Linked DNA regions of Homo sapiens. The protein of the gene in region 1 purifies or fractionates together with the protein of each later gene. This does not show direct contact. Each region holds a gene or a part of one and is shown in the gene's direction. Other genes may lie near its edges.

The links.
Region 2: the proteins of CDC25C (region 1) and KIF1C purify together in Homo sapiens (affinity purification with mass spectrometry, with the first as the bait; one large-scale study listed by BioGRID). This does not show direct contact.
Region 3: the proteins of CDC25C (region 1) and MAST3 purify together in Homo sapiens (affinity purification with mass spectrometry, with the first as the bait; one large-scale study listed by BioGRID). This does not show direct contact.
Region 4: the proteins of CDC25C (region 1) and PPP2R5D purify together in Homo sapiens (co-immunoprecipitation; 2 studies listed by IntAct). This does not show direct contact.
Region 5: the proteins of CDC25C (region 1) and NUP188 purify together in Homo sapiens (affinity purification with mass spectrometry, with the first as the bait; one large-scale study listed by BioGRID). This does not show direct contact.
Region 6: the proteins of CDC25C (region 1) and USP17L2 purify together in Homo sapiens (affinity purification with western blotting; one study listed by BioGRID). This does not show direct contact.
Region 7: the proteins of CDC25C (region 1) and SIPA1L1 purify together in Homo sapiens (affinity purification with mass spectrometry, with the first as the bait; one large-scale study listed by BioGRID). This does not show direct contact.

Annotation. Positions count from the first base shown.
Region 1 is NC_000005.10:138,318,305-138,321,804, reverse strand, and holds part of CDC25C (M-phase inducer phosphatase 3), read left to right. Parts: intron 1-2,430; coding exon 2,431-2,586; intron 2,587-3,500. UniProt on the Homo sapiens protein: Functions as a dosage-dependent inducer in mitotic control. Tyrosine protein phosphatase required for progression of the cell cycle. When phosphorylated, highly effective in activating G2 cells into prophase.
Region 2 is NC_000017.11:5,007,950-5,011,449, forward strand, and holds part of KIF1C (kinesin-like protein KIF1C), read left to right. Parts: intron 1-3,500. UniProt on the Homo sapiens protein: Motor required for the retrograde transport of Golgi vesicles to the endoplasmic reticulum. Has a microtubule plus end-directed motility.
Region 3 is NC_000019.10:18,146,278-18,149,777, forward strand, and holds part of MAST3 (microtubule-associated serine/threonine-protein kinase 3), read left to right. Parts: intron 1-603; coding exon 604-767; intron 768-1,165; coding exon 1,166-1,347; intron 1,348-2,913; coding exon 2,914-3,449; 3' UTR 3,450-3,500.
Region 4 is NC_000006.12:43,005,070-43,008,569, forward strand, and holds part of PPP2R5D (serine/threonine-protein phosphatase 2A 56 kDa regulatory subunit delta isoform), read left to right. Parts: intron 1-1,376; exon of another isoform or gene 1,377-1,393; coding exon 1,394-1,610; intron 1,611-1,841; coding exon 1,842-2,041; intron 2,042-2,126; coding exon 2,127-2,237; intron 2,238-2,344; coding exon 2,345-2,437; intron 2,438-2,865; coding exon 2,866-2,996; intron 2,997-3,131; coding exon 3,132-3,191; intron 3,192-3,297; coding exon 3,298-3,406; intron 3,407-3,500. UniProt on the Homo sapiens protein: The B regulatory subunit might modulate substrate selectivity and catalytic activity, and might also direct the localization of the catalytic enzyme to a particular subcellular compartment.
Region 5 is NC_000009.12:128,950,699-128,954,198, forward strand, and holds part of NUP188 (nucleoporin NUP188), read left to right. Parts: intron 1-2,074; coding exon 2,075-2,148; intron 2,149-3,500. UniProt on the Homo sapiens protein: Component of the nuclear pore complex (NPC), a complex required for the trafficking across the nuclear envelope. Required for proper protein transport into the nucleus.
Region 6 is NC_000008.11:12,136,050-12,140,209, reverse strand, and holds USP17L2 (ubiquitin carboxyl-terminal hydrolase 17), read left to right. Parts: upstream 1-1,360; 5' UTR 1,361-1,449; coding exon 1,450-3,042; 3' UTR 3,043-3,775; downstream 3,776-4,160. UniProt on the Homo sapiens protein: Deubiquitinating enzyme that removes conjugated ubiquitin from specific proteins to regulate different cellular processes.
Region 7 is NC_000014.9:71,739,093-71,741,709, forward strand, and holds the end of SIPA1L1 (signal-induced proliferation-associated 1-like protein 1), read left to right. Parts: coding exon 1-69; 3' UTR 70-2,117; downstream 2,118-2,617.

The DNA of each region.
Region 1 (3,500 bases):
ATGAAGATAAAGTTGATCATGGTTTTTTTTTTTTTTTTTTTTTTTTTTTTTTTTGAGACAGAGTCTTGCTCTGTCACCAGGCTGGAGTGCAGTGGTGCGATCTCAGCTCACTGCAACCTCTGCCTCCTGGGTTCAAGCAATTCCACTGCCTCAGCCTCCCCAGTAGCTGGGACTATAGGCGTGCACCACCACACCCAGCTAATTTTTTGTATTTTAGTAGAGACGGGGTTTCACCATGTTGGCCAGGATGCTCTCGATCTCCTGACCTCGTGATCCACCTGCCTCGGCCTCCCAAAGTGCTGGGATTACAGGCATGAGCCACCGCGCCTGGCCACTAAGTTGATCATGTTTTATTTAGGTTTTTGGTTTCTAGGATGGAGGGAAGACCTGGAGTATGTTCAATTATTGGATAGTCTTATATGTGATTTTTTTTAATTGCAGTAAAATGTACATAATATTTACAATTTTAACTATTTGTGAGTGTGCAGTCTAGTGACAGTAAGTATATTAATAATGTGAGACTATCACCAGAACTCATTTCCAGAATTTTTTCATTATTCAAAACAGAAGCTGTATACCCTTAAGTGATAACTCCCCATCCCTGTTTCTGCCCAGCCAATGATAACCTCTATTTTCTGTGTCAGTGAATTTGACTATTCTAGATACCTCATATGAGTAGAATAATATTATATTTTGTCCTTTCATGTGTGTGTGTGAGGTCTCACTCTGTCACCTCTGCTGGAGTACAGTGGCACAATCATAACTCACTGCAGCCTCAAACTCCCGGGCTCTGATTATTCTCCCACCTCAGCCTACCAAGTAGGTGGGACTGCAAGTGTGTGCCACTATGCCTGGCTACTTTTTTTTTTTTTTTTTTTTTTTTTTTTTTGAGACAGAGTCTCACTCTGTCACCCAGGCTGGAGTGCAGTGGTGCAATCTTGACTCACTGCAACCTTTATCTCCCAGGTTCAGGTGATTCTTATGCCTTAACCTCCCTAGTAGCTGGGATTACAGACGTGTGCTACCATGCCTGGTGAATTTTTTTGTATTTTTAGTAGAGACGGAGTTTCACCATGTTGGCCAGGCTGGTCTTAAACTCCTGGCCTCATGTGATCTGCCCACCTCAACCTAATTTTTTTGTATATTTTGTAGAATCAGGGTTTTGCCATGTTGCCCAGGCTGGTCTCAAACTCCTGGGTTCAAGAGATCCATCTGCTTCAGCCTCCCATAGTGCTGGGGTTACAGGTGTGAGCCACTGCGTCCAGCCTATATTTTCATTTAGCGTAATGTCTTCAAAGTTCATCTATGTCATAGCATGTATTAGAATTTCATTTCTTTTGTATGTATATATCATATTTTGTTTATCCATTCATCTGTTGATGGACATTTTGAGTTGTTTCCAACCTTTTGGCCATTGTGAGTAATGCCGTTATGAACATAGGTGTACAAAATCTGCTTGAGTCCTTGCTTTTATTTTATTTTGTGTATTTTTTTTTTCCAAGATGGAGTCTTTGCCCTGTCACCCAGGCTGGAGTGCAGTGGAACGATCACAGCTCACTGCAACTTCCACCTCCCTGGTTCAAGCAGTTCTCCTGCCTCAGCCTCCCAAGTAGCTGGGATTACAGGCACATGCTACCATGCCCGGCTAATTTTTGTATTTTTAGTAGAGATGGGGTTTCAACATGTTGGCCAGGCTGCTCTCGAACTCCTGACCTCGTGATCTGCTGGCCTCGGCCTCCCGAAGTACTGGGATTACAGGCGTGAGCTACTGCGCCCGGCCCCTGCTTTTAATTCTTTTGGGTATATATTCAGAAGTAGAATTGCTTGATTACATGATAATTCTACATTTAATTTTTTGAGGAACTGCCATGCTATTATCCATAGAATGCCTCTGCACCCTTTTACATTCCCACCAGCAATGCACAAACACTTGTTATTTCTTATAATGGCTATCCTAATGGGTATAAAGAAGTATCTCTTGCAATTTTCATATGCATTTCCATAATGATTACTTTGTTGAGCATCTTTTGATGTGCTTATGGGCCATTTGTATATCTTCTTTGGAGAAATGTCTATTCATGTCCCTTTTGATTGTTATTGTTGTTGTTACTGAGTTGTAGGAGTTCCTTATATATTCTGATATTAATCTCTCATCAAATATAAGACTTGCAAATGTTTTCTCCCATTTTGTGGGTTGCCTTTTCATTCCCTTAATGGTGTTCTTTGATGCACAAAAGTTTTCCATTTTGATGAAGACCAATTTATCTGTTTTTTTCTTTCGTTACCTGTGCTTTTGGTGGCATTATCCAAATCCAGTGTCATGAATTTTTTCCCTTATCTTTTCTTCTAAGAGTTTTATAGTTTTAGCTCTTACATTTAGAACTTTGATATATTTTGAATAGTTTTTAATGTTGTCAATATACTTGACAGGACAATGGAAACTTGGTGGACAGTGAAATGAAATATTTGGGCAGTCCCATTACTACTGTTCCAAAATTGGATAAAAATCCAAACCTAGGAGAAGACCAGGCAGAAGAGATTTCAGATGAATTAATGGAGTTTTCCCTGAAAGATCAAGAAGCAAAGGTAAAGTGTTCTGTGGTAGTATCTTTGTATTCTTCATATTCCTTCATTCTGTTAAAAGAAGAACTAGACAAATTAAACTTAGGAGAGTTTATTTGAGCAAAAAAATAACTAGTGAATCCAGCAACCCTCATAGCCAGAACATGTTCAGTAAAACTCCAGTTTGCCATGTGGTCAGGCAGTATTATGGACAGAAAATGGAAATGAAGTACAGAAAATAGAAGTGAGGTACAGAGACAGCCCAGTTGGTTGCAGCCTTGAGTTTGCCTTATTTGAACATGGTTTAAACAGTTGATTGCTTGTGGTTGACTGAAGCTCAGCTGCTGTGCTTTCCTGAGACTCAGCTTTTTGATACAAAAGTATACTTCTAAATTAGGCTTTCAGTTAGTTTAAGTACTAAGTTAGGTTGCAACTTGGTATATAAAGACTCAAGTACAGAGGCATCCCCAGGCCAAATTTAGTTTAATTAAGAATTCATTCTTCTTTTTTTTGTTGTTTGTTTTTTTTAAGACAGATTCTCGCTCTGTCGCCTAGGCTGGAGTGCAGTGGCGCCATCTTGGCTCACTGCGACCTCCTCTTCCCAGGTTCAAGCGATTCTCCTGCCTCAGCCTCTCGAGTAGCTGGGATTACAGGTGTGCACCACCACACCCGGGTAATTTTTAGTATTTTTAGTAGAGACAGGGTTTCACCATGTTGGCCAGGCTGGTCTTAAACTCCTGGCCTCAGGTGATCTACCCACCTCAGGCTTCCAAAGTGCTGGGATTGCAAGCGTGAGCCACCATGCCCAGCCAACAATTCATTCTTGAATAAACATTTTATGCCTGATATGTATGAGTCACTCTACTAAATGCTAGAGCTACAGAGATCAACAAGATGTGATAACCTATCTTTATTTATTTATTTATTTTTGAGATGGA
Region 2 (3,500 bases), on another chromosome or scaffold:
TGCAGCGAGGGGTTGGTTATAGATGGAGGCACCCGTGTAGCTTGGAGCTATGCTGCAACTGGTTTCCTGGAGAAGGTGGTTTGGAAAGTGGAACCTGAAAGATGGACAGGACTTGGGAAGTATGGAGGAGTAGGGCCAACATGAGGTTGAAGAGCCTGGGGTACATGTTGGGGTGAGTGGGACACGCCAGTGCCTGACACGTGCCTGCCGCCAGGTTTTAGGTACCTAATAAATCTTTGCTGAAAGGAAGGAAGGAGCAGGGCGGGAGAGGTCAGGCTCAGGTGGAGGCAGGAATGATACTCCAAATATTAATAACCATCCGGCATAGGGACTGACCAGTCAGAAAGGACACTGGATATAGACAGCCAGCACCGCTGTACCGGTGCATACCAGTGAAGGGATGGTGCAGAGGCCAGTATACCAGTGAAGGGATGGTGCAGAGGCCAGTTTGAGCAGAGCATGAACTTCCAGTTCCACCAGGGAACCAGCCCAGCCCGTCTGGACCATGGTGTGAAGCAGCAGAGGATCAGGCCCTAAGTCAGATACACTGTGCTCTGAGCCAGACAGTGTCACTGGGGGCTGCCTGGAAGAGGTGATGGGTTACCAGAAGAAGGCTCCTCTCTGTTTTGTAAAGTCAGGTCCATCTGGGGGACTAAGCAAGCAGGGATCACTGAACCCCTGTTCTGAAAAGAGGAGAGGGGTTTTGCCTTGCCTGGCCCAAGCCACATTGAGGGAGTGAAAGAGCTGTGGGCGGTAGGCCAGGCTGCGTGTCTGGGGTCTTGTCTGGGGCTGGGTACCCTGGGGCTTTGGGGTCCTTCTGAGGGATCCAGACTCTTCTGGGACCCAGCCACACCTAGGTGGAAAGAGGGGCTACGGATGCGCTCAGCATGGCTTCCAGCCACCTTTGTATACCTGGAGCTGGGCCGCTTCCACCACGGTTGCAAGGATGGAGGAAAAGCAGAAAGGACTGGGGAGACTGGTGGGGTGGAGGTTTCTTCCTTGGAGAGCTTGCAGAGATGCCACCTGCCAAAGCCTGGGGACCAAAGGAGGGGGTTCTTGTTTTAATTGTTCTTATAAAGGTAATACACACCAGAGAGAACATTCTAATAGTTCTAAAAGGTGTGTACAGTGAAAAGTCTCCAATTTACAGCATTTTGTTATAGAAAAAAAAAAAAAGTAACTCTCCATCCTTCCCACCCTTAAGTTTCCCCTCAGAGGCAGCCTTCATTATGAGTTCTTTTTTTTTTTGAGACGGGGTCTTGTACTGTCACCCGGGCTGGAGTGCAACGGTGCAATCTTGGCTGACTGCAACCTCCGCCTCCTGGGTTCATACGATTCTTCTGCCTCAGCCTCCCAAGTAGCTGGGATTACAGGCGCACACCATCACACCCGGCTAATATTTTGTATTTTTAGTAGAGATGGGGTTCACTATGTTGGCCGGAGTGGTCTTGAACTTCTGACCTCGTGATCCACCCACTTCGGAGTCCCAAAGTGCTGGGGTTACAGGTGTGAGCCACCGTGCCAGGCCCATTATGGGTTCTTACTATATTCTCCTTGGGTCGGGCCTGGTGGCTCACACCTGTAATCCTAGCACTTTGGGAGGCCAAGGCGGGTGGATCACGAGGTCAGGAGATTGAGACCATCCTGGCTAACACAGTGAAACCCCGTCTCTACTACAAATACAAAAAATTAGCCACGTGTGCTGGCGGGCGCCTGTAGTCCCAGCTACTAGGGAGGCTGAGGCAGTAGAATGACATGAACCCGGGAGGCAGAGGTTGCAGTGAGCTGAGATCGCACCACTGCACTCCAGCCTGGGTGACAGACAAGACTCTGTCTCAAAAAAAAAAAAAAGAAAAAATGTTCTCCTAGAGATGCTGTCTAGGAGATGTTATAACACATGTACAGGCATATGTTATATAGAACTATACACATTTACTCACATTCACGGCCTCTCTAATAGTTGTAGTTGCATATCTATTTTATTTATTTATTTTGAGACAAGAGTCACACTCTGTCGCCCAGGCTGGAGTGCAGTGGCACAATCTCAGCTCAGTGCAAACTCTGCCTCCCAGGTTCAAGTGATTCTCATGCCTCAGCCTCCCAAGTAGCTGGGATTACAGGCACCCACCACCACGCCGGGCTAATTTTTGTATTTTAGTAGAGACAGGGTTTCGCCATGTTGGCCAGGCTGGTCTCAAACTCCTGGCCTCAAATGATGCACTGGCCTTGGCCTCCTGAAGTGCTGGTATTACAGGTGTGAGCTACTGTGCTTGGCCTGCATACCTTATTTTAAAGCTTCCTTTATTTTTTTCACGGTGTCAGGGTATTCTATTGTGTAGATGTAGGATAATGTATTTAACCAGCTTCCCACTGATGGACATTCAGATTGTTTCCCATTCCTTGATACTACAAAAAAAGGCTACAATGCATAGTCTTACAAATGGGTGTTATCTGTAGAGCAGATTCCTAGAAATGGAGATTTTGGGTCAAATGGTAGCCATGTAAAATTTTAATCTAGGCCGGGTGCGGTGGCTCACGCCTGTAATCCCAGCACTTTGGGAGGCCGAGGCGGGCGGATCACGAGGTCAGGAGATCGAGACCATCCTGGCTAACAAGGTGAAACCCCATCTCTACTAAAATAGAAAAAATTAGCCGGGCGTGGTGGCGGGCACCTGTAGTCCCAGCTACTTGGGAGGCTGAGGCAGGAGAATGGCGTGAACCCGGGAGGCGGAGCTTGCAGTGAGCCGAGATCATGCCACTGCACTCCAGCCCAGGTGACAGAGCGAGACTCCGTCTCAAAAAAAAAAATTTTTTTTTTAATCTATATTGCCAAAGTGCCCTCTGAAGATTATAACCATACCAATTTATTTTACTTTTTTGAGATGGAGTCTTGCTGTGTTGCCCAGGCTGGAGTGCAGTGGTGCAATCTCGGCCCACTGCAAGCTCCGCCTCCCGGGTTCACGCCATTCTCCTGCCTCAGCCTCCCAAGTAGCTGGGACTACAGGCGCCCACCACCACTCCTGGCTAATTTTTTGAACCATACCAATTTATACTCCCAAGGGTAACATACAAGAGAGCCCATTTCCCCTCGCCCTTTCCCACATTCTGGCTTAGTAAGACTTTTCTCTTTGCCTGTGTGATTGGTGAGAAGGTGTCTTAAGGTAGTTCACTTTTACATTTTTCTCAAGGTGGTGAGGATGAACTCTTCTCATGTTTAAAAGCCATGTGGTCTAAAGCCAGAAGAGAGAACTGTTAGACTCATGGGGAAATGGGTTTGGTGTGAGTAGCTCCAACAGGGAATAGTTGGGTCTTAGAGGAAAAAACTACAGTTTGTCTTGGAGGGAGCCTCCTCTTGCTAAGACCCCCACCACCAGGGCTAAGGATTGCTTAAATCAGTGGTGTTCAAACCTGGTTCTGAGCTGCCTTCTCAGGGGCTGAGGATAGGGACAGGACCAGACCCTGGGGCTCTCACCCCCAGCCTGGGCCTGAGCAGCTTCTTG
Region 3 (3,500 bases), on another chromosome or scaffold:
AAAAATTAAAAAATAAAATTAGCTAGGCATGGTGGCATGCGCCTATAGTCCTAGGTACTTAGGAGTCTGAGGTGAGAGGATCGCTTGGGCCGAGGAGGTTGAGGCCATAGTGAGCTGTGATCGTGCCATACTGCACTCCAGCCTGGGACACAGAGTGAGACCCTCCCTGGTTCTAAAAAAATAGAGGGCTCTCATGTGGGCAGCTGCATGGGTGGTTCATTGAATAGCTGGACACTGGGTAGGTGTCTTTGGCCTAATGACTCATGGGCCATTAGGTGAGTGATTGGGGGATGGGGAGATGTTGGGGTGATTAATGGGTGGATACCAGATAGGTGGGTGACAGACCCCGGGAGGGTGGAGAGTGAAGAGGGCAGGCCTCGATCGGCGTTGACCGCAGAGGGAAGGATCTTAGCAGGAGGGGTGGTGCTCCCTGGGCTATTGTTTGACCGGATATATTGGGTAGGTCACTGGTTGTGTGGATGAATGGATGCTGGGGTGGTGGGTCCCAGCTGGTGCCCGGAGTGAAGGGGACATAGCAGCTGCCTGGCAAGTGCTGGGCCCTGTGAGAGGCACAGAGGCAACCCCTCACCATCCCTCCCGCAGAGCGGCAACAAGATATCCCTGCGGACCACAGCCCTGGAGAACACCTCCATCAAGGTGGGCCCCGCCCGGAAGAATGTGGCCAAGGGCCGCATGGCACGCAGGAGCAAGAGGAGCCGTCGGCGGGAGACCCAGGATCGGTGCGCGGCAGTGACCACCAGGGAGCGGTACACAGGGGGCGGGGCCACGGGGACTGGGGTTCTTTTTTTCTTTTCTTTTTCCTTTTTTTTTTTTTTTTTTTTTTGAGACAGAGTCTTGCTCTGTTGCCCAGGCTGGAGTGCAGTGGCTCAATCTCGGCTCACTGCAACCTCCACCTCCCGGGTTCAAGCGACTGTCCTGCCTCAGCCCCCTAAGTAACTGGGACTACGGCGTGCACCATCATGCCCAGCTAATTTTTATATTTTCAGTAGAGACAGGGTTTCGCCATGTTGGCCAGGCTGGTCTCGAACTCCTGACCTTAAATGATCCATCTGCCTCGGCCTCTGAAAGTGCTGGGATTACAGGTGTGAGCCACCATGCCTGGCCAGGAGCAGGGGTTCTGAAGCCTCCGGTTTTCTTACCCCAGGCGGAAGTCACTTTTCAAGAAGATCTCCAAGCAGACCTCCGTGCTGCACACCAGCCGCAGCTTCTCCTCCGGACTCCACCACTCACTGTCATCCAGTGAGAGCCTCCCCGGCTCGCCCACCCACAGCCTCTCCCCCAGCCCCACCACTCCCTGCCGAAGCCCAGCCCCTGATGTCCCAGCAGGTGGGTGCACCCCGACCCCCCACCACCCCGGCTACCCTGGGAGCAAGGGCTGGTGGGCCCCAGGAGGGAGGAAGGAGTTCAGGGGATGGAATGACACGATGTAGGGAAAAAGATGACCGGGATCCTGGTGTCTAGCAGGGAACCTGGGAGTACTTAGAGACGAATGCAGGTGCCAGGGAAGGATGCACCCAGCAGAGGAAACATCATGGACAAATGGGGCTAGACAGGAGGGTGGGAAAACTGAGAAGAGGCCAGGCACGGAGGCTCACGCCTGTAATCCCAACACTTTGGGAGCCCGAGGCAGGAGGATCACTGAGCCCAGGAGTTTGAGACCAGCCTGGGCAACACAGGGAGACCCCATCTGTACAAAACATAAAAAAATTAGGTGGGTGTGAGGCCGGGCATGGAGGCTCACACCTGTAATCCCAGCACTTTGGGAGGCCGAGGCAGGTGGATCACCTGAGGTCGGGAGTTCAAGACCAGCCTGGCCAACATGGAGAAACCCCGTCTGTACTAAAAATACAAAATCAGCCAGGTGTGGTGGCACATGCCTGTAGTCCCAGCTACTAGGGAGGCTGAGGCAGGAGAATCGCTTGAACCCAGGAGGTGGAGGTTGCGGTGAGCCGAGATTGAGCCATTGCACTCCAGCCTGGGCAACAAGAGCAAAACTCCATCTCAAAAAAAAAAATTAGGTGGTTGTGGTGGTGCACACATGTGGTCCCAGCTACTCTGGAGGCTGAGATGGGAGGCTCACTTGAGCCCAGGAGGTCAAGGCTGCAGTGAGCCATGATTGCACCACTGCACTCCAGCCTAGGCAACAGAGTGAGACCCCATCTCAAAAAACAAAAGGGAAAAAAAAAAAGAAAACAGAAGTGATACAGAGAAGGCTTTCTGGAGGAGGGGGAGTAGGAGCTGGGGCTTTGATGGGTGAGTGGGAGTTCACCAGAGCTAGGCCAAGGAAACAACCCTGAGCAGGAGGCAGAAAAGTCTGGCATGAACCAGGCATGATGGCTCATGCCTGTAATCCCAGCACTTTGGGAGGCCAAAGCAGGCGGATCACTTGAGGTCAGGAGTTTGAGACCAGCCTGGCCAACATGGTGAAACCCCAACTCTACTAAAAATACAAAAATTAGCCAGATGTGGTGGCACATGCCTGTAGTCCCAGTTACTTAGGGGGCCGAGGCACGAGAATCATTTCAACCTGGGAGGTGAAGGTTGCAGTGAGCCAAGATCATGCCACTGCACTCCAGCCTGGGTGACAGAGCGAGACTCTATTGAAAAAAAAAAAATTAGCCAGCCATGGTGACGTGCACCTGTTGTCCCAGCTACTCAGGAGGCTGAGTTGTGAGGATCACTTCAGCCCAGGAGGTTGAGGCTATGATTGAGCCAGTGCACTACAGTCTGGGCAACAGAGCAAGACCCTGTCTCAAAAACAAAAACAACCAGGCATGATGGGTGGCCACATGGAAGGATGTGGGCTTTAGCAGTTTTTGTCAGTCCCACAGCTCCACTTCTGGGCTGGGGACATTGAGGCCAGCAGCCCTGACCTACGCTTATCACCCACAGATACCACTGCATCCCCACCCAGCGCATCCCCGAGCTCCAGCAGCCCCGCCTCCCCAGCTGCTGCTGGCCACACCCGCCCCAGCTCCCTGCACGGCCTGGCTGCCAAGCTTGGGCCACCCCGCCCCAAGACTGGCCGCCGCAAGTCCACCAGCAGCATCCCGCCCTCCCCGCTGGCCTGCCCGCCCATCTCCGCGCCCCCACCCCGCTCGCCCTCGCCCCTGCCCGGGCACCCGCCCGCACCTGCCCGATCCCCGCGGCTGCGCCGGGGCCAGTCAGCTGACAAGCTGGGCACAGGGGAGCGGCTGGATGGGGAGGCGGGGCGGCGCACTCGTGGGCCAGAGGCCGAGCTCGTGGTCATGCGGCGGCTGCACCTGTCCGAGCGCCGAGACTCCTTCAAGAAGCAGGAGGCCGTGCAGGAGGTTAGCTTCGATGAGCCGCAGGAGGAGGCCACTGGGCTGCCCACCTCAGTGCCACAGATCGCCGTGGAGGGCGAGGAAGCCGTGCCAGTAGCTCTCGGGCCCACCGGAAGAGACTGATCCCCTGCCAGGTCTCTCCCTGGCATCAAAGTTACGCGTTTTCTTGTGCAA
Region 4 (3,500 bases), on another chromosome or scaffold:
ATTAACTCCTGATATTCCATTTATTCATTTTCTGTTATAAATGAGGTTGTTAAAAGTATTTGTGCACAAAGCTTTTTTTTTTTTTTTTCTTTTTGCCTGGCTACCTCTGTCTCCTCCAAAGCTTTTTTTTTTTAATTTAGGATTTTTATTAAGCTAAATTTCTAGTAAAGTCCTAAGACATGGGAATGAATTTCTTTCTTTTACCTTTTTAAATTTGAAAATTTTTATCTTTAGAGACAGTGTTGTTTTGTTGTTCAGGCTGGAGTGCAGTTGGTGTGATCATAGCTCATGGGAGACTTGAACTCCTGGGCGCAAGGGATCCTCCAACCTTGAGTAGCTGGAACTCCAGTAAGCTTCCTGAGTAGCTGGAACTGCAGGCATGTGCCACCACACCTGGCTAATTAAAAAAAATTTTTTGTAGAGATGGGGTCTTGCTACGTTGTTCAGGCTGGTTTCAAACTTCTGGCTTCAAGTAATCCTCCTGCTTTGGCTTCCCAAAGTGTTGGGATTACAGGCTTTGGCCACTGTGCCTGGCCTTTCTTTTACCTTTTGTTTTGTTTTTTTTTTTTGAGACAAAGTCTCGCTCTTGTCCCCCAGGCTGGAGTGCAATGGCATGATCTCGGCTCACTGCAACCTCCGCCTCCTGGGTTCAAGCGATTCTCCTGCCTCAGCCTCCCAAGTAGCTGGGATTACAGGCGCCTGCCACCACGCCTGGCTAATGTTTGTATTTTTAGTAGAGATGGGGTTTCACCATGTTGGCCTGGCTGGTCTTGAACTCTTGACCTCAGGTGATCTGCCCTCCTCGGCCTCCCAAAGTGCTGGGATTACAAGTGTGAGCCACTGCGCCCGGCCTCTTCTACCTTTTGATTGGAGACTGTCATACATTCAGTAAAGGATCTTAAGTGTACTGCTCAATAAATTTTAGGTATGTATCTGCCATGCACCACCTTGCAGGTCCAGTCAAGATACAGGATGTTTACATTACTCAGAAGGCTCCTCATGTCTCTTCTTATTCCTCATGTGTCTTCTTATTCATCATGTGTCTTCTTAGCAATACCCACCCCATTTCCCCTGGCAACGTAATCACTTTTTTGACTTCTGTCACCATCAATCTATCAATTAGCTTTACCTGTTCATGAACTGGAATGAACGTTTTAAAGGCTCTTGATGCACAAGCAGTGGGCATCTCTTTGGGTGATGTGACTTCTTGACTGCTCCCTGCCAGGGCTACAGCACAGTTATCTCTGTAACCCTGGCCTTAGCTCCTTCGGGGCAGGAGACAGCTGCTCACTGCCCAGGCCTGTGCAGGCATAAACAGACTTGGGGATGGCCAGGCCCAGGGTGGGAGGCATATCTTGGGAAGTGGATTTCAACAGGTGACTTGTTTGACCAGGCCCAGCCGCAGCCCCAGCCCCAGCCCCAGCCCCAAGCCCAGTCTCAGCCACCGTCATCCAACAAGCGTCCCAGCAATAGCACGCCGCCCCCCACGCAGCTCAGCAAAATCAAGTACTCAGGGGGGCCCCAGATTGTCAAGAAGGAGCGACGGCAAAGCTCCTCCCGCTTCAACCTCAGCAAGAATCGGGAGCTGCAGAAGCTTCCTGCCCTGAAAGGTACTTGGCAATTGGTCACAGGGGCTGTTTTACCAGTTCTAGTGGGCATCGGGAGTTGGTGGAATGGAAGTTTTGGGGTATTTTGCGGGGAAGGGAGTTCCAGAGAATGCGGGAAGGGGGTGCCAGGGAGCAGGATGGTGGCAGGGTGGGGTAAGGGAAAGCCCTTGAAGGCAAGCAGGGCATCGCAGTGAAGGACTACAGAGGAGAACCTGACTGCTGGGGCCCCCACAGATTCGCCAACCCAGGAGCGGGAGGAGCTGTTTATCCAGAAGCTACGCCAGTGCTGTGTCCTCTTTGACTTCGTGTCAGACCCACTCAGTGACCTCAAATTCAAGGAGGTGAAGCGGGCAGGACTCAACGAGATGGTGGAGTACATCACCCATAGCCGTGATGTTGTCACTGAGGCCATTTACCCTGAGGCTGTCACCATGGTGGGCACAGGGAAAGGACACAGGGGGGACTGGTGAGGGGCTCTGGAGAAGCCCAGGTGGAGCTCTAACTGGCCCTACCCCTCAGTTTTCAGTGAACCTCTTCCGGACGCTGCCACCTTCATCGAATCCCACAGGGGCTGAGTTTGACCCAGAGGAAGATGAGCCCACCCTGGAAGCTGCTTGGCCACATCTCCAGGTACCAGGGCAAGGGGGCAGATTGGCCGTGGCTGCAGGGAGTGGGGCACTTGGAGGCCTGCAAGTCCTTGGGAACATCCCCTCAGTGGCGTGCCTTTTCCCCTATAGCTCGTGTATGAGTTCTTCTTACGTTTCCTTGAGTCTCCTGATTTCCAGCCAAACATAGCCAAGAAGTACATCGACCAGAAGTTTGTACTTGCTGTGAGTCCCCGAGTTCCTGTCCTTGCCCTCTCTTTCCATTCCATGCCCCCTTCATCTGTGTCCCAGTGGCTCTTTCCCCTTAAGCTGAATATATTGGGTTTCATCCATGTCTGGTACGAGGAGGCTATAAAGGGTAAAAAACAAAACAAAACAAAACCCTACTCTGGCCTTAAGAAACTAACAACATAATGGTAGGAAACAAAAAAGCAACAGAGTACCTCTCTCAGGTCAATAGTGAGGCATCACTTTGGAAGTCTCAGTACAAATACAATAGAATCAGCAATATAATAGAATCACTGCTTTCTAAGACTTGCTGGCCCCCACTCCAGGGGACCTCTGCATTTCCCCTGGCGGGACCTATGTCACCCTGGCCACTGCCTTCCCTGGCTGCTGCCTCACTGGCTGCTTTCCCTCCCTTGTACCCCCAGCTCCTAGACCTATTTGACAGTGAGGATCCTCGAGAGCGGGACTTCCTCAAGACCATTTTGCATCGCATCTATGGCAAGTTTTTGGGGCTCCGGGCTTATATCCGTAGGCAGATCAACCACATCTTCTACAGGTGAGGCCAGGAGCCCAGGCTTAGGAGCAAAACCTTCTGCTACTGAGGTGGGGTGGGAGCAGGGAGGTGGGGGGACTGTACAGAATGCTGGAGGGACATCAGGGGTTGTCAAGAGAGCCATTTTTCTTCCCTCAGGTTCATCTACGAGACGGAGCATCACAACGGGATTGCTGAGCTCCTGGAGATCCTGGGCAGGTGAGAGGCCGGGTGGGGGCACAGATGCCTGAAAAAGGTTGGCAGGATTGGTGTACTGAACTTGGATCTGACCCTCTGGTCCTAACAAATGTCCCTTAATTCCTAGCATCATCAATGGCTTTGCCCTGCCCCTTAAAGAAGAGCACAAGATGTTCCTCATCCGTGTCCTACTTCCCCTTCACAAGGTCAAGTCCCTGAGTGTCTACCACCCTCAGGTGAGCTGCCTTCCTCCTTATAATGTCCAACTCAGGCAGCAGAGAAAAGAGCCGGCAGGAAAGTGTTCCAGCTGGGATAGGGGAAGCATAGGGA
Region 5 (3,500 bases), on another chromosome or scaffold:
GCCAGGCATGGTGGTGCATGTCTGTAGTCCCAGCTACTTAGGAGTCCAAGGTGGGAGGATTGCTTGATCCTGGGAGGTTGAGGCTGCAGTGAACTCTAGCCTGGGAGACACATCGAGACCCCAGCTCAAAAAAGCAAAAAGCTTTATAAACATTACGCATTCCCTACTTCTTTGCTGAAATGAGACTACCTAGCCTAGCTGCTGAAGTCTTTTAAATCTACCTTTGTATTTCATTGATTCCTTTTATGAAAAGATACCTGTGTTCATTGCTTGGCTGCTGAGAGTAGGGGTGCAAATACCATTCTTCTACCTCAACCTAAGAAAGATTCTTGGCCAGGCATGGTGGCTCACGCCTGTAATCCCAGCACTTTGGGAGGCCGAGGCGGGCGGATCACCTGAGGTCAGGAGTTCGTGACCAGCCTCAACATGGAGAAACCCCGTCTCTACTAAAAATACAAAATTAGCCCGGTGTGGTGGTGCATGCCTGTAATCCCAGCTACTCGGGAGGCTGAGGCAGGAGATTCGCTTGAACCCGGAAGTGGAGGTTGCAGTGAGTCGAGATCGCGCAACTGTACTCCAGCCTGGGTGACAAAGCGAGACTCCATCTCAAAAAAAAAAAAAAAAAAAAGTCAGGCTTGGTGGCATATGCTTGTATTAGTAGTTCCAGCTACTCAGGAGGCTGTGGTGGAAAGATCGCTTAAGCTCAGGATATCAAGCCTGCAGTGAGCCATGATTGCATCACTGCACTCCAGCCTGGGTGACAGAACAGGACCCTGTCTCAAAAAACAACAAAGAAAACTTCACCACAACATCATTTATATTATTAAATAATTACAGTCAGCTTAAGTATATCAAACATTAGAGGAATGGTAAATGAATTATGATCTACCAACTTGATACAAGTATTATGCAGCAACTTGAAAGTATGTTTATCAAGACTTTCATAATAAGGTTAAGTCATTATGTTATAATGTTAAGCAAAGAAAAGAAGGTTACAGAATTCTGTATTCAAAATGATTTCAACTCTGGGGAAAAATGCATATTAAAAACACTCAAAGGAATGTGTAATACTTAGTGTGATTCTGGAATCTGATTTTTTTTTTTTTTTTTTGAGACGGAGTTTCGTGCTTGTTGTCCTGGCTAGAGTGCATTGGTGCAATCTCGGCTCACCACAACCTCTGCCTCCCAGGTTCAAGTGATTCTCCTGCCTCAGCCTCCCGAGTAGCTGGGATTACAGGCATACACCACCACGCCCAGCTAATTTTGTATTTTTTAGTAGAGACAGGGTTTCTCCATGTTGGTCAGGCTGGTCTCCAACTCCCAACCCTAGGGGATCCGCCCGCTTCGGCCTCCCAAAGTGCTAGGATTACAGGCCTGAGCCACCATGCCTGGCCGAGTCTGATTATTAATAAAACTGCATTTGGGCCGGGCGCAGTGGCTCACACCTGTAATCCCTGCACTTTGCTGACATGGGCAGATCACGAGTTCAGGAGTTCAAGACCAGCTTGGACAATATGGTGAAACCCCATCTCTACTAAAAATACAAAAAAAACTGACTGGCATGGTGGCGTGCGCCTGTAGTCCCATCTGCTCAGGAGGCTGAGGTAGGAGAATTGCTTGAACCCAGGAGGCGGAGGTTGCAGTGAGCCAAGATTGCGCCACTGCACTCCATCCTGGGTAACAGAGTGAGACTCCGTCTCAAAAAAAAAAAAAAAAAAGAAAGCACAAAAAACTGCATTTGCGGTCGGGTGCCTTGGCTCACGCCTGTAATCCCAGCACTTTGGGAGGCCAAGGCAGGCAGATCACTTGAGGTGGGGAGTTCGAGATCAGCCTAGCCAACATGGTGAAACTCCATCTCTACTAAAAATACAATAATTAGCTGGGTGTGGTGGCTGGCACCTGTAATTCCAGCTACTCGGGAGGCTGAGGCTCGAGAATCACTTGAACCTGGGAGGCGGAGGTTGCAGTCAGCCAAGTTGGTGCCACTGCACTCCAGCCTGGGTGATAGAGTGAGACTCTGTCTCAAAAAAAAAAAAAAATACTGCATTTGTATAATTACCTTGTTCTTTTCCAGAGTCAGATTGAGGCAGAACTGAATAAACATTGGCGGCGATTGTTAGAGGGGCTTTCTTACTACAAACCTCCCAGGTATGGCAGTTCCGGGTGTCTGGTTAAAGTAATTGTCCTAAGGAAGCTGACATGGATAAAACCATCCTTCTATGTGCTTTGATGATATTGTAGGGTTATGTATACCAGAGATAATACAATTTAGTTTACCAGTGGAAAACAGTAGGGTACATTTGTTTTTTTGTTGACCGAAAGAAAAGGAAATTCCTTCTAGAAATACAGTATTGTAGAATATAATTATGACCTATGTGTGGGGATGAGAATTTATTAAACATTCAACGAATTTTCTAATATTTATTCAGAGTCCACAGTGTCTGTGTGAGTACTAATTGGTGGGAGATAGCAGTGAAGGATGATGCTAACAACTGACACTTGTGTAGTGTTAACTATGTAACAATTAATACTCTAAGCACCTGACTTATCAAAAGTTATTTAATCCCCACAACACCCCTTTGAGATAGTTACTACTTTTATTCTTTGGGTGAATATATAGATCTTTTTATTGGGTAGTGGAAAACATAGTAATAAAATATAAAGTAGTTGCAAATAAAGAGAATGCAGCTTGTAGGGCTGGGCTTATTTGATCTTGATTCCTAGTCCAGATCTCATTCTATTATGCGTTATAGTCTAAGTCACCCTCATTTCCCTTCTACTTTTGTACTGCTTTTGAATGTATTACATCTTTACCTTCCATTTTCATTCTCTTAGGTTAACGATGAACTTTTCCTTGTTATTCATCTGTCTGTTAATTCTTCCCCTGTAATTACCTTAAAGTAAATCCCAGATACCTTGTTATTTTATCTGCAAATACTTGACTATGTATCTAAAATACATGGACTTTTTAAAAAGATAATCTCTATATTATCACATTTAGGTACCCTTATCATTGTTTCCATTTTACCAGTGGGGAAACTGAGGCACAAAGAGGTTAAGCAACTTGTCATGGTCACACAGCTACTAAGTGATAGAACCAGGATTTGACCCTGGTGGTCTCATTCCAGTGTCTGTTCTTTTTTTTTTTTTGAGATGGGGTTTTGCTCTGTCGCCCAGACTGGAGTGCAGTGTCACATCTCAGCTTACTGCAACCTCCACCTCCCGGGTTCAAGTGATTCGCTTGCCTTGGCCTCCCGAGTGGCTGGGATTACAGGTGCCCGCCACCACGCCCAGCTAATTTTTGTATTTTTAGTAGAGATGGGGTTTCACCATGTTGGCCAGGCTGGCCTTGAACTCCTGATCTCAAGTGATCTGCTCACCTCGGCCTCCCAAAGTGCTGAGATTACAGGCGTGAGCCGTCATACCCAGCCTATTGTTTTCTTTACTATCTTTTTTCTGTTCCAGGATCCAACCTAGTTGTCAAGTGCCTGTAGTCTCCT
Region 6 (4,160 bases), on another chromosome or scaffold:
GTCCACTTTCGTCAGCATTACAATTTTTGCATCAAAGGTGCTAACTGCAATTCCACCATACAATGCATAACTGGAAATGGAGGGAACATCTCAGAGCATGAACAACCGATGCGAGAATCCAGGAGATACACGGTTTATTTTTGCCATTTCCCAGTGAAACAAGAGCCAGTATTAAAAAGGTTATGCTACCCTCTGTTTCACTCACTGCTTTTAAACGTCTCCGATGTTTTCTTCTTCAGACAGGGCCTCACTCCCGTCACCCGGGCTTTTCTACGGTATAATTTTCCTTGTTTGCTTTTGTCAAAATTAGAACTTTTTATTTCATCTCTATGAAATGTTGATCCATTATCACGTAAGTATGGAAATAGTATCACCCATGCTGTGAGATACGTTGTTTTTATTTTCATCAGTTCTTTAATAAACAAAAGCTTATAGTTGGGATACCTTTGGATTTCTCAAGTTTTTTGTTTCAAGTTTTCTTAAACTGCCGCCGCACGTCCGAAACCACTCACTATACAATGTCAGGACCATCTCTCTTTTCTGGCACACATAAATTTGGGGAATGTCATCAATTAGTCTCTCGGTGATTGCATGATTTCCCCAAAGTCTTTCACAGCCTACTTTGTGCACTGAGTAACTCTTCAAACTTCAGTGCATGTTTCTACCATTTGATGCTTTATTATTTGGCAGCCTAGCTTCCACAAGAGCATTTCATGCAAAGACTTGTCTTGTTCTCCACTGGCCAGTAATTTCACTCGGATAGAGAGTCAATAGGCTGAACGTGGAAAGGTTATCCCTGGAAGGTCTGTTTGATGCCACGGATATCTCCTTTATTATTAAGGAAGAAAATACGCTGTGCTAAATACTATACTTCATTGACTATTCTCAGGTCAGAAAGCGCACTTCAGACTTCTTGTCCTTCCGTCGATGAGAGGATGACGGTAGCTGCCAAAAGTACATACTTGGAAGTTCATCCCAGCACAAGCACACACACACACACACAAACACACACACACACACACACACACAGAGAGATACACACACGGTTTCATAGGTAAAGATTTCTTCCCTGACATTCTTTTACCTAAAATAAGGCAACTGTGTGGCCACTGTCCCAACCCGGTTACACTCATATTATATGTGCCTATCACCCTGAGGAGTAATTTGATTCAGGTGTTCTAGAAGTCATGATGTGGGCTGTGTCTGTTGAATTCCCAGCGATGCAAGGGGACACACCCTGTGACTCATTCCTTAATTGAGTGCTGATATTTGATTGGTTTATCGCACACCTGATGGGTGGGTGGGGTGTTCGCGGTTGGTGGGGGTGAGTTATATAAGGGCTGATGCGGCCAGAGAGCTCGTCATTTGAAGACTCTCTTGGAAGAGATAGCGTCTTGCTGCAACCTGCAGTCCCAGCAGAAAAACCTTGTGATCCTTGTTGCGGGCGACATGGAGGACGACTCACTCTACTTGGGAGGTGAGTGGCAGTTCAACCACTTTTCAAAACTCACATCTTCTCGGCCAGATGCAGCTTTTGCTGAAATCCAGCGGACTTCTCTCCCTGAGAAGTCACCACTCTCATCTGAGGCCCGTGTCGACCTCTGTGATGATTTGGCTCCTGTGGCAAGACAGCTTGCTCCCAGGAAGAAGCTTCCTCTGAGTAGCAGGAGACCTGCTGCGGTGGGGGCTGGGCTCCAGAATATGGGAAATACCTGCTACGAGAACGCTTCCCTGCAGTGCCTGACATACACACCGCCCCTTGCCAACTACATGCTGTCCCGGGAGCACTCTCAAACATGTCAGCGTCCCAAGTGCTGCATGCTCTGTACTATGCAAGCTCACATCACATGGGCCCTCCACAGTCCTGGTCATGTCATCCAGCCCTCACAGGCATTGGCTGCTGGCTTCCATAGAGGCAAGCAGGAAGATGCCCATGAATTTCTCATGTTCACTGTGGATGCCATGAAAAAGGCATGCCTTCCCGGCCACAAGCAGGTAGATCATCACTCTAAGGACACCACCCTCATCCACCAAATATTTGGAGGCTGCTGGAGATCTCAAATCAAGTGTCTCCACTGCCACGGGATTTCAGACACTTTTGACCCTTACCTGGACATCGCCCTGGATATCCAGGCAGCTCAGAGTGTCAAGCAAGCTTTGGAACAGTTGGTGAAGCCCGAAGAACTCAATGGAGAGAATGCCTATCATTGCGGTCTTTGTCTCCAGAGGGCGCCGGCCTCCAAGACGTTAACTTTACACACTTCTGCCAAGGTCCTCATCCTTGTCTTGAAGAGATTCTCCGATGTCACAGGCAACAAACTTGCCAAGAATGTGCAATATCCTGAGTGCCTTGACATGCAGCCATACATGTCTCAGCAGAACACAGGACCTCTTGTCTATGTCCTCTATGCTGTGCTGGTCCACGCTGGGTGGAGTTGTCACGACGGACATTACTTCTCTTATGTCAAAGCTCAAGAAGGCCAGTGGTATAAAATGGATGATGCCAAGGTCACTGCCTGTAGCATCACTTCTGTCCTGAGTCAACAGGCCTATGTCCTCTTTTACATCCAGAAGAGTGAATGGGAAAGACACAGTGAGAGTGTGTCAAGAGGCAGGGAACCAAGAGCCCTCGGCGCTGAAGACACAGACAGGCGAGCAACGCAAGGAGAGCTCAAGAGAGACCACCCCTGCCTCCAGGCACCCGAGTTGGACGAGCGCTTGGTGGAAAGAGCCACTCAGGAAAGCACCTTAGACCACTGGAAATTCCCCCAAGAGCAAAACAAAACGAAGCCTGAGTTCAACGTCAGAAAAGTCGAAGGTACCCTGCCTCCCAACGTACTTGTGATTCATCAATCGAAATACAAGTGTGGGATGAAAAACCATCATCCTGAACAGCAAAGCTCCCTGCTAAACCTCTCTTCGACGACCCGGACAGATCAGGAGTCCGTGAACACTGGCACCCTCGCTTCTCTGCAAGGGAGGACCAGGAGATCCAAAGGGAAGAACAAACACAGCAAGAGGGCTCTGCTTGTGTGCCAGTGATCTCAGTGGAAGTGCCGACCCACACGTAGGGGTGAACGCACACACACACACGCACAAATACACCCACAAGCGCGCACGCAAACACACACACACACACAAACACGAACACCGTCAATCCTACATAAAGTAATGAGGAGTCCAAGTTTCTGTCTCTACAACAGGGACAACTGGATAGTGATGGCTGCATCTCAGGATGAGCCCACACATGGGAAACATCAAGTTTTGGGGTCGTGAGTCTTCCGAACCTCTGGAGAGACTGTCTGTGTGTTTGTGTTCATGGTAGATGACATTCACTGTGTATTTCTGAATATGACCTACTGACGTGTAGGTTTGAGTGTGAGGTTATTGCAGGGGACTCGGTTTCCTATTTTCTCTTGGGGTGTGTTTCATTCGTCAGTTGTTGGGCGGCACGAGAAGGTGAAATTTTGCTCATGTGGCACATCCATGGATCATTCTCGCCACCTTGAATAGTGGAAACTGGAATGCATTTAGAAGATAGGAACGGTGCTCTTCTTTCTTACCCTGGCTCACCGTTTTTACATTGGTTTCTGAATGGACCTCAGGCGCCCTGGGACTTGTGCTCTTGCTGGAACCCACATAACGCCGGAAACAGACAGACCGACTTGCCTGTTTCACGATGTCCAATTCCAATGAGTCGAAATGGAAAATTTTCCCACTGGCATGTCAGTCATTTGGAAATAAGTCGTATTGATAATAAAGGAAATCAAACACAGGAGTGTGTGTATTCAACTGAAATAAATTCAGAAAGCCCTGAAATAAACCTCATTTGGTGTGCTTACAAATGGCATTTGGGGAGATTCCGGGTCATTCGTCCAGCTGCGAAAGCTGCATCTCTGAAGCACAGTCCCTGTCCTGCAATCAGACTTACGTATCCGACGTGGTGTTTCCGTGGAAATGATTGTGGGAAATGGCCCCTTGCTTGTCTGTATTTGCTGATTAGATTTCATGGTCCCTTTCTCGTTAGGTGCAGTGATCAAAGTTGACCAACCCCAGAGGAAAGCTGCCCAGGGCACCACTCAGGGCTCCGTAGAACCACAGAATCTTGGGCGCAACCCTGCTCAAGCACCCAAATGTGCATACGAACAGGGTCTCCGTGT
Region 7 (2,617 bases), on another chromosome or scaffold:
TCCCAGAACGCCTCGGACAAGCTGAAGAAGTTCACAGAATGGGTCTTCAACACCATAGACATGAGCTAGGGAAGGCTGAGGAGGACAGGAGAAGGGCCCAGACACTCCCTCCAGTGAGTGTCCTGCAGCCCTTATTCCCTCCATAGAAAGCATCCTCAGAGCACCTTCCCTGGCTTCCTACTCTGCCCCCTTTCGGGGAGTGCACAACACAATAGTTGCAGATCAACAATCATCACCTGCCTTTTGTAGAAAAGAAAAACAAAAAAAGTAAATAAAAATTTTAAACAGTAAAATAAAAGTTTAACTGCTAAAATGTGAATGTCTTTATTTTTTTGCACAATATCTTTATCTGTTATGTATTTAAGAAGAAACTGGGCCTTGGACCAGGGCGCCCCCTGGCCCATCCGCCTCTATTCCCATCAGCTTTCTTATCAACTTCAGGTAACCCAAGCTTTCCCTTGTTATTCTAACAAATATCATTATTCCTAGAAAAAGAATGTTTTTATAACTTGTTTGGGGAGTAGAGAGGGATATTTCCTTACCTTCTTCCCTAAAATGCCTGGAGAGGGAGTTGCTTTGAGAAAATGCCTACCTCCCTTGAATGACTCGTGCATGAGCTAGTGCTGTCTGTACCTGTCCTCCAGAGATCAGCAGGACCGGAGTTAAATATTTAACAGCAAGTCTGTAAACCAGAGCAGCTCTGACAGTGCCTGCAGGCCACACCCCTTCTCAGTCCTGCATTGTGAGGTCATTTCCTGCTTCTCCCTTTCCCCAGGAAGATGGTCCCACTTGTGCTGCAAGACTCTTTTTTGTTTGGCTTAATTGAGCCCCACTAAATTGGAATCAATCTCTCTTACAGCTTCCTGGCTCCAAACATTAATTGATTTCAGAATTCCCCCAAACTAAAACCTTATCTGTCTGCATTTTGAATGCATTTTGGTCAAAAGTATACGTTTTAAAGATTTTTAAAGATAAAAATGTGGCACAACTGGTTTTTTTAGCTTGCTGAAAATGACCATATCTCTAAATTAATCTTTCTCTCCAGAGCAAGACTTCACCAGTATTTGTAACTAGGAGAAGCTAACAGTGAATGTTTAATTGTGAATTTTAATCATTGCTTGTTAGGAATAATGACTGTGATACTAGAATGGGCTTTTGAAACCTGCATGTCCCAGTGTGAAATTTCAGCACGGCATTTTCTGCATCCTTTCATGGCCATCCAAAGGATTCCGCTGCAGAAATTATTGATGTGCTATTTTTGCTGTCTTGTGATGCAGGCTGCTTTGGGCCCCTGGGTCACTCTTCCAAGGCTGCTGTAGAGCACAGAGACATGGGGCTGGCCAGTGTTGACTGACCTGAGGAGACCCCTTTGTTTGTTGCCTTCATAACTGTCACTAAACCGACCCCTCTGCCCTTTCAGTGGCAACTCTGGTCTAAGGGAACATTCAGCACTCTAGCGGCATCTGATTGGAAGTTCCCTCACCCAAGTAATCTCAATTCCTTCCTCTCTCCATCCCTGAAAGAAACAGGATGGATTTTCCTCTCTTCTCCCTGCTACATTCACTACCAGATTTTTATGCTACAGTTTCATTCTTGATTGTGATTTCTCCATGGAATTTTTTTTTTCTGGTGACATTTCTATCATGGAAATAGGAAGATTTCGGAGTGCTTTGTGAAGATTTCAATTGTCTGTCTCTTTCTCTCTTTGACTTGTATGAAGGAGATTGTACATTGCCTGATATCTCTTTGTAAATGAGAAATATTGCTAACATCCAAGCATTCTGAAGTCTTGCTTATCCTTCTGAGTTTAGTTCTCATTTTGTTTTACATTTTGTTTGGGGACTTGGGGCAAGCTATTTATTAGAGTTTTGCAACAGAGTTCTTGTTTGAAGCCTCTAAAGACTACCTGTAAAATTCAAAGAATAAAATTCATTTTAAACGCTCTTTTAAAACACTTTGGTATTATTGCTTGAGGTTTGCTTATTTGAAAGACCACCCAATAACTCATTGACCCTCCTTGCATCCGAATTTTTTCATCAAGCTTTGTTAACACTAATGATGATTCTTGAAAATTTCTGTCCTTCTCAGAATGTTAATAAACTTTTTTACTCTGTCCACATGTCGATAGAGAATTACTATTTTGCCTTCTCTGCTTATGATTTAATATTTGCAGAGCACTTCATAATTAGCTTCCCCTTCATTATCCACGCATGGATTTTTCATAACATTGTTATTCTCTGAGACCAGCACATTTTTGGGCTGCATCTCCCAGCTCTCAATGTCAGATGTTGTGTGCCCAGGGAATACAAATGCCTGTTAATATTAGGCTGTGCAAAATATAATTAGAAAAGTTAATCTACTGAAAAAAAAATCAGTGCATTCCAAAGTCAAACCGAACCAATTTTTTTTTAATCTACCACGTCACTGTTCCTCTCCAGCGGCGCAGCTAATTGAGTGCTGACAGTAGAGTTTCTTCCTTTTATTTGGTTCAACAGTTCTACAGATTCCAGAGTTCTTGGACTAGCATAAGAATGGATGCCACAAAATATTCCAATTAACAAGCTAAAAAGGTCTGTTTAGACCATGATTCCTACATGGTTCGGAGGGCTTATACGTT